2 separate regions of the Homo sapiens genome follow, and region 2 is linked to region 1. The links come from fine-mapping of genetic effects on gene expression. A gene starts in region 1. The other region holds a variant in brackets. All regions are shown on one strand. Distances are between the middles of the regions. Region 1 holds the start of FMNL3 (formin like 3). Region 2 overlaps PRPF40B (pre-mRNA processing factor 40B).

The links. PIP is the estimated chance that this variant, and not a neighbour inherited with it, causes the effect.
Region 2: its variant is the best candidate, but not a certain one, in a credible set for the expression of FMNL3 in whole blood (TOPMed, PIP 0.61).

The regions. Positions count from the first base shown.
Region 1 is chr12:49,706,317-49,709,220 of GRCh38, reverse strand. It overlaps FMNL3 (formin like 3), which reads left to right and starts at 1,816. Exons shown (of 26, transcript NM_175736.5): 1 at 1,816-2,166. The coding sequence starts at 2,041. LOC124902929 (a long non-coding RNA gene) reads right to left here and starts at 1,495. Exons shown (of 3, transcript XR_007063299.1): 1 at 1,382-1,495. It also overlaps the pseudogene COX5BP5. RefSeq lists an enhancer at 1,233-1,382 and a silencer at 1,403-2,172.
Region 2 is chr12:49,639,160-49,642,063 of GRCh38, reverse strand. PRPF40B (pre-mRNA processing factor 40B) reads right to left here. Exons shown (of 26, transcript NM_001031698.3): 19 at 40-156. FMNL3 (formin like 3) reads left to right here. Exons shown (of 26, transcript NM_175736.5): 26 at 1-2,904. Among named protein-coding and RNA genes, the nearest start is that of PRPF40B, 17 kb to the right of the region's middle. The variant G/A (reference allele first, on the strand shown) is at 1,313.

The DNA of each region.
Region 1 (2,904 bases):
CCTGGTGCCTGAAGCTGCCTTTGGGGGTAATATATTGTATGGGTCCAATCTCATACATGGCTGTCATGAACTCCCTCTCCAGCCCAGTCATCTGCTTGTCATCAGTAGGAACGCCACCTCCAGATGCCATGAAGCACACTGCAACCACCCCATTGGGACTGTAAGCCCTCAGGCCTATGCGGCTAGCGCTCCAGCTCTGAAAATTAACCTTGAAGCCATCATGCCTGTGACAAGCAACAGCTGTGTTTATTTATTTATTGAGACAGAGCCTCACCCTGTCACCCAGGCTAGAGTGGAGTGCCATGAACATGGCTCACTACAGCCTCAACCTCCTAGTTTCAATTGATCCTCCTGCCTCAGCCTCCCAAGTAAGCAACTCTATTTAAAATCTTAATGCCTCTTCCATCTCTATCACCTTTCAGTTTTATTTTTATTAACACTGATCACTAACATCTATACATTTTACTCGTCTAGTTTATTGTCTACCTTTCCTTCTACACAGATTGTGAATTCCAAGAGGACACAATGTATATCCTGTTTGTTCGCAGATGTACCTTCAATGCCCAGAATAGTATCTGGCATAGAATAAACTTTCTAAAATAAATATTTGTTGAATAAATGAATTAAAAATCTAGGTGATAACTTCAGGCATGGTTAGATCCAGGTTCTTGGCATGTCATTAGAATTTTGTCCTGTCTCATAGCTTTTCTCTCCTCTGCGCTGGCTTCATTCTCAAGCAGGCTTGATGTGTTACAGGTGATGATAAGACGGCCACCAGCGGCTGCAGGTTTACATTCTAATAATTTTGCAGCCTAAATGGAGAGAGAGTGAGTGCCTCTTTCCTGATTGTTTCAGAGAAAGCCTTGGATATATCATATTGTCTGGGCTTGGGTCAAGTGACAATCCCTAAAACAGTGTCCATGGGTAGAGGAGGAAAATGTTGTGACTGACTGGGCCTGGGTCATGCGGTCCTTTGGAACTGGGGATAAAATTCAGCTCCATTTAGACTGAGAAGAGGGGAGAGGTGGTTTCCTAAAAGAAAAGGGGGTGCTCTCACTGGAAGAAGATGGCGGCTAGACAACAAATTTCCACCGCAAATGTCAACGACCCAGCCGCCGACTGAGCCCAGAACAGCGTTCTTCTCCCGCCTCTCCATTTTCACACGCAGCCAGATGGTTAAGCTTCTCTCCTCCCAAACGTTTTTTCCCCTGCCTCTGTCGGGTAAGGGCTTCCTCATCCCTCAATGCCTGGTCCAACTATGATCTCCCTCACCCCGACTCTTAACAGGTACTATCTCTCTCCCTCTTCTGAGTATCCTGCTTGTTTCTACTTCTCTTGTAGTTAGTTTTGTACGCCATGCCTTGTATAATATTTTACTTACTTGTATACATCATGAGTTCCTTTTGAAAAAGGGTACGGTCCATTCCCGGTGTGTCCACGCCAGCCCCTCACGCCCTCTGGGAACCGCGGTGATTCGATGCCGGCTGAGGCCGCCAGGGAGCGCTCGGCGCCCGGCACGAGGCCGTCAAGGGCGGGAGGCGCTGTGATTGGCAGACGCGGCCGTCAATCGGGCGCAGGTGGGGCGGGCCGGGCCGCCTGTGAGGCCTCTGGGCGGGAGGCGGGGCCTGCATGAATGGGGCGCGCGTCGCGCGGGCTGCAGTCGGCGCTCGCGGGGGAAGCCCGAGTCTCGGCCGGGTGTGGGTGGGAGGAAGCGAGGTTGGCGGGGGAAGGGAAAGAGCGCGGGGGGCGGGGAGGGGCAGCGCCCGGGCGGCGCGCCGAGCGCGGCGAGGCGGCGGGTGTGAGCAAGAGCCGGCCGCCTCCGTCCGCCTTGCTTCGGTGCGGCTGTCCGCTACGCTGCCTCCGCCCTCGCCGCGCGCCCCCGCCAGCGGGACTCCAGGGAACCCCCGGCGCCCTCGACGGGGCCGAGGAGTCGGGACTCGGGGAGCCGGCGCTGAGGGAGGAGCCTGGTCGGAGCCGCGGAGCCGAAAGCTCCGGAGCGTGGAGGTGGGGGGCCGAGGCCCCTGAGGGGGCCCCGCCGCGATGGGCAACCTGGAGAGCGCCGAGGGGGTCCCGGGAGAGCCCCCCTCTGTCCCGTTGTTGCTGCCGCCCGGCAAGATGCCGATGCCTGAGCCCTGTGAGCTGGAGGAAAGGTTCGCCCTGGTGCTGGTGAGAGCTGAGCCCAGCCCCTTCCCCCGCGTACCGCCCCTCAGGTCCCGACGCCCGGGCTGGGACTTTGTGCTGGGCCCCCGTCCCGCCCACCCTTTCAGTCGGGGTCCCGAACGGATCCCGGCCTCCAGTGTCTTCCCAGGAACCTCTGAGCAGCCGCTGGCCGGCCCGGACAGCCCCGTCGGGGATCTCGGGACCGACGCCTCCACCGCTGGACCCTTAGGAGAAGTCCCCAGTTCGGGACCGTCCTAGGAACCAGGCTTCTCCCTCCTTCTTCCTCCCCCTTCTGCTGCCCTTTTCCCGTTTCCCCGCTTCTTCGCCAGGCTCCCCGTCCCTAGCATTCTCAGCCCGGAGCCTCTCGCGGGTGGGGGGAATTCAGAAGCGCGGCCGGCTCGCTCCTCAGCAGGCTTCCCTGAGTGGGGACACCGCCTCTCCTGCGAACATGGAGGCTTCCCAGGGAGTGGGTCCCACTCCCAGCCCAGACCAGATGTTTGGGGGGAGAGGGGGATGGGGAGGCGGCTGGCAGCTCCTGAAGGGGGTGGAATAAAGAGTATGCCATTCTGCTTATTTTCAGAACGGCCTGCAGGCATCCTGCTAAGTTAGAGTGGATTTGCCTGAAAGGCTGAACATGTGGATAAACCATTTCACTGGGGTATTTCTCCAAGTGAAACAATACACAAACCATCCCGCCTCCTCCCCCCCTTTTCACGTTAAGCCATAGTGACTGGTTTGTGTTGT
Region 2 (2,904 bases), 67 kb after region 1:
TGAATTAGAGAACTTCCCACGCCCCGCCCAGCCCCTCACACTATTGAAGGTCAGCTTGATGTTGCCTGCGTCCAGTGCGGCAGCCCTCTTGTCAAAGCTTATGACGTGGGCGAAGTCCTCAAAGGCCGTGTTCACCTCCACGCAGAAGCCCCGGTCCTGTGGGTACAGCAGTGCATGAAGCAGGGGCACCACGTGCCTGAGGCCAAAGCTGGCAGGCAGAGTGGTCACATTACAGATGGTCAAGAAGGCCCTTGCCTCTGGAAGAGATCCACAGGACTGTGGTCTGCATTAGAAACCAAGTTATCCAAGTCCTCATCACTTGACAATTAAGCCCCCATGCCTACCCTTGGTTTGGATGTCACACAGAGCTGAAGGGGTTGGGAGATGTCTCCCAACTGCTGATTAATGCTGAGTTTCTCAAAATTAACTTTTGTTCCTTTGGCTTAAAGCTCTGGCCCCAGCTGGGCCCTCCTGCTGCTCAGCAGTGCTTCCATGCATTCTCAATCAACATTTGCTGGCCCCTACCCTTTGGGTCTATTTATTGAGTGCTTACTATGTACCAGGTACCATGATGAGTGTTTCACACATTATCTCATTTAATCCTCTTGGTTCTACATTTAAGAATAGGTCCTAGTATCCTAATTTTACACAGAAGGAGAAACCAAGGTTCAGAGAAACTAGAGCACTTGCCCAAGGTCTCACAGCTGATATACGGCTGGGCAAGAACCCTACCCTGGGGGGGCTCTCTATCCCCAAAGTGTCTGCTTTCAAGCACCACACCCACCCAGATGACTTAGTCCATGGGAGAAACGGAGGCCACCAGGTGTGCAGCTCCCCACCAATACTAAAAACATGTCCACAGGCCAGGCTCTATGCTTCTCATTTAGGCCTCACAACATTCCAGTGAAGCAGAGGCTTAGAAAAGTGATCTCAGTTGGCCCAAGATGACATGAGTGGTAAATGAAGCCACTGGAGTTCAAAGTCTGGCTCTCACGTCAGTTAAGCACAGGCCAGATTCCCTTTCTCTCCCTCCACATAGCTCTCACCTCCTCTGGCCTTTTTGCTGATGGCAGAGGTGTGCTCCTCTTTCTTCTTTCCAAGGGTACTTCCTCAACCCTGCTACAGTCCTTATCAACACAGCATTCATTCTCAGGGAATTGAAAGCTCCAAGTCACCCTTGTTACTGGCTCCTTCCATCAAGCAGACACCTCACCTAACCTGGAACATCCTTTCCACCATGCTCTCCCCTTCATCAAGCTAACTACCTCTGCTCTTTTCCATTGTTTCAAAACCTCTTGAAATGCAGCAGAAA[G/A]GAAAAGGAATAAACATTTATTGAGAACCTATTAGACACTTTACAGATGTTATTTAATTCTCACAACCTTACCTATGAATTATCCCTGATTTACAGGTGAGCAAACAGGCTCAGAGACACGGAACTTACGGAGGTCTCAGAGCCAATAAGCAACCAGGAGTAATCTGACTCTAAAACATGTGCTGCCCCCATGCCACCTCCATGACTCTACTCTCCCAAAGGTTGCTTGTGTCTACTAGCCAAATCCAAGGCCGCCTTCTTTGTCCTCACTCATCTGGTCCTCAGTGCCTCTACCACTTACTTCTTCAACACTCCCCTCTCCAGGTCACACCCTCTCTGACCTTTTATTCTCTTGCATATGCATGTTCCTGAGAACAGCACTTAGTCCTCTTTCACTACCCAATCTGTACTCCCTCGCAATCTCATCCTTCATCTCTCCTGATTTTCAAACATCCTAGACTGGATATTTCAGACACTTAAAATTCAACAGATCTCAAGAGAATATATTTCTCATGAGCATCCTCCATGGATCTCCCTGACCCGGATCTGTCTGCCTGTTCTAAGTCCAGGGCTCTTTGCATTATCCTATGGGATGAAAGGCACCATCATGGTCTGCCTGGCTGTGGAAAGCAAGAGGGACTCCTGGGCTCATCTGCCCTCCATAGGCAGGAACCCAAATGGGGAAAGAGGAAGGGAACTGTCTAAAAAAGTTGCTTTCTCAGGTTGTGTGGAGAGACAGGACTCAGTGAGGATAGGCCCCTACAGGCCTATCAACCAGCCACTCTGTGGCTAAAAGTTAATTGTCCAATAAAATTTAGCTATCCCAGGATAAGGCATTTCTACTTTATACGATTATTCTGTTTTAAAATATATTTGCTTTGAGAGTAATTCCCCAAATAGAATTCCTATTTTCTACAGCCTTGCTCTTCTTGTTTTATCCTTATCAATAGTGCCATCATCCACTGCCCTGACACCTCTGATTCCTTCCTTTCCCTCCATTTCACAAAATCTATCAATTCTACTTAGTGACTCTATCCCACTGGTGTTGAATTCTCCCTTTTTTTTTTAAACAGCAGAAACAGTTTATTAAAATAGAAATCTTATGTAGAACCTTTATGCATAAAAAAGATTCAAGCTGCTTCACTTGAAAACAGGAAGCAGCACCAAATCCCCCCATACTCAACTCCAACCCTTGCTTGTCTCAAGGCACCTACATAGAAACCCAGAGTGTCTCAGAAGAACAGCTGGAGCGCTACAGCCTGCTCTCTTCTGCTGTCCCCACTGCCCCCGGCTAGGATCACCTCCTACAAGATTCCTGCACAGCCTACTGACTTTTCTCCCTGCTCACCCTCTTCCATCCCTCTAACCCAGCTCCTAGCATCTAGTGCTTCTTGGACTTTTGTACCAAGTAGCCCCAACAGTAGGAGAGAGGTCTGGGGATAAGTGAAATGAATATGACTATTTGAATTACCACTATCAGTTTTAGTATCTTGAGGCTTCAAGAACTGCTCTACCTAGCACCACCACCTTCCCTAAGGACATAAGTACGTACTCTAGACTGAAAGGTTCTACTATACACCATCTAATCTGAT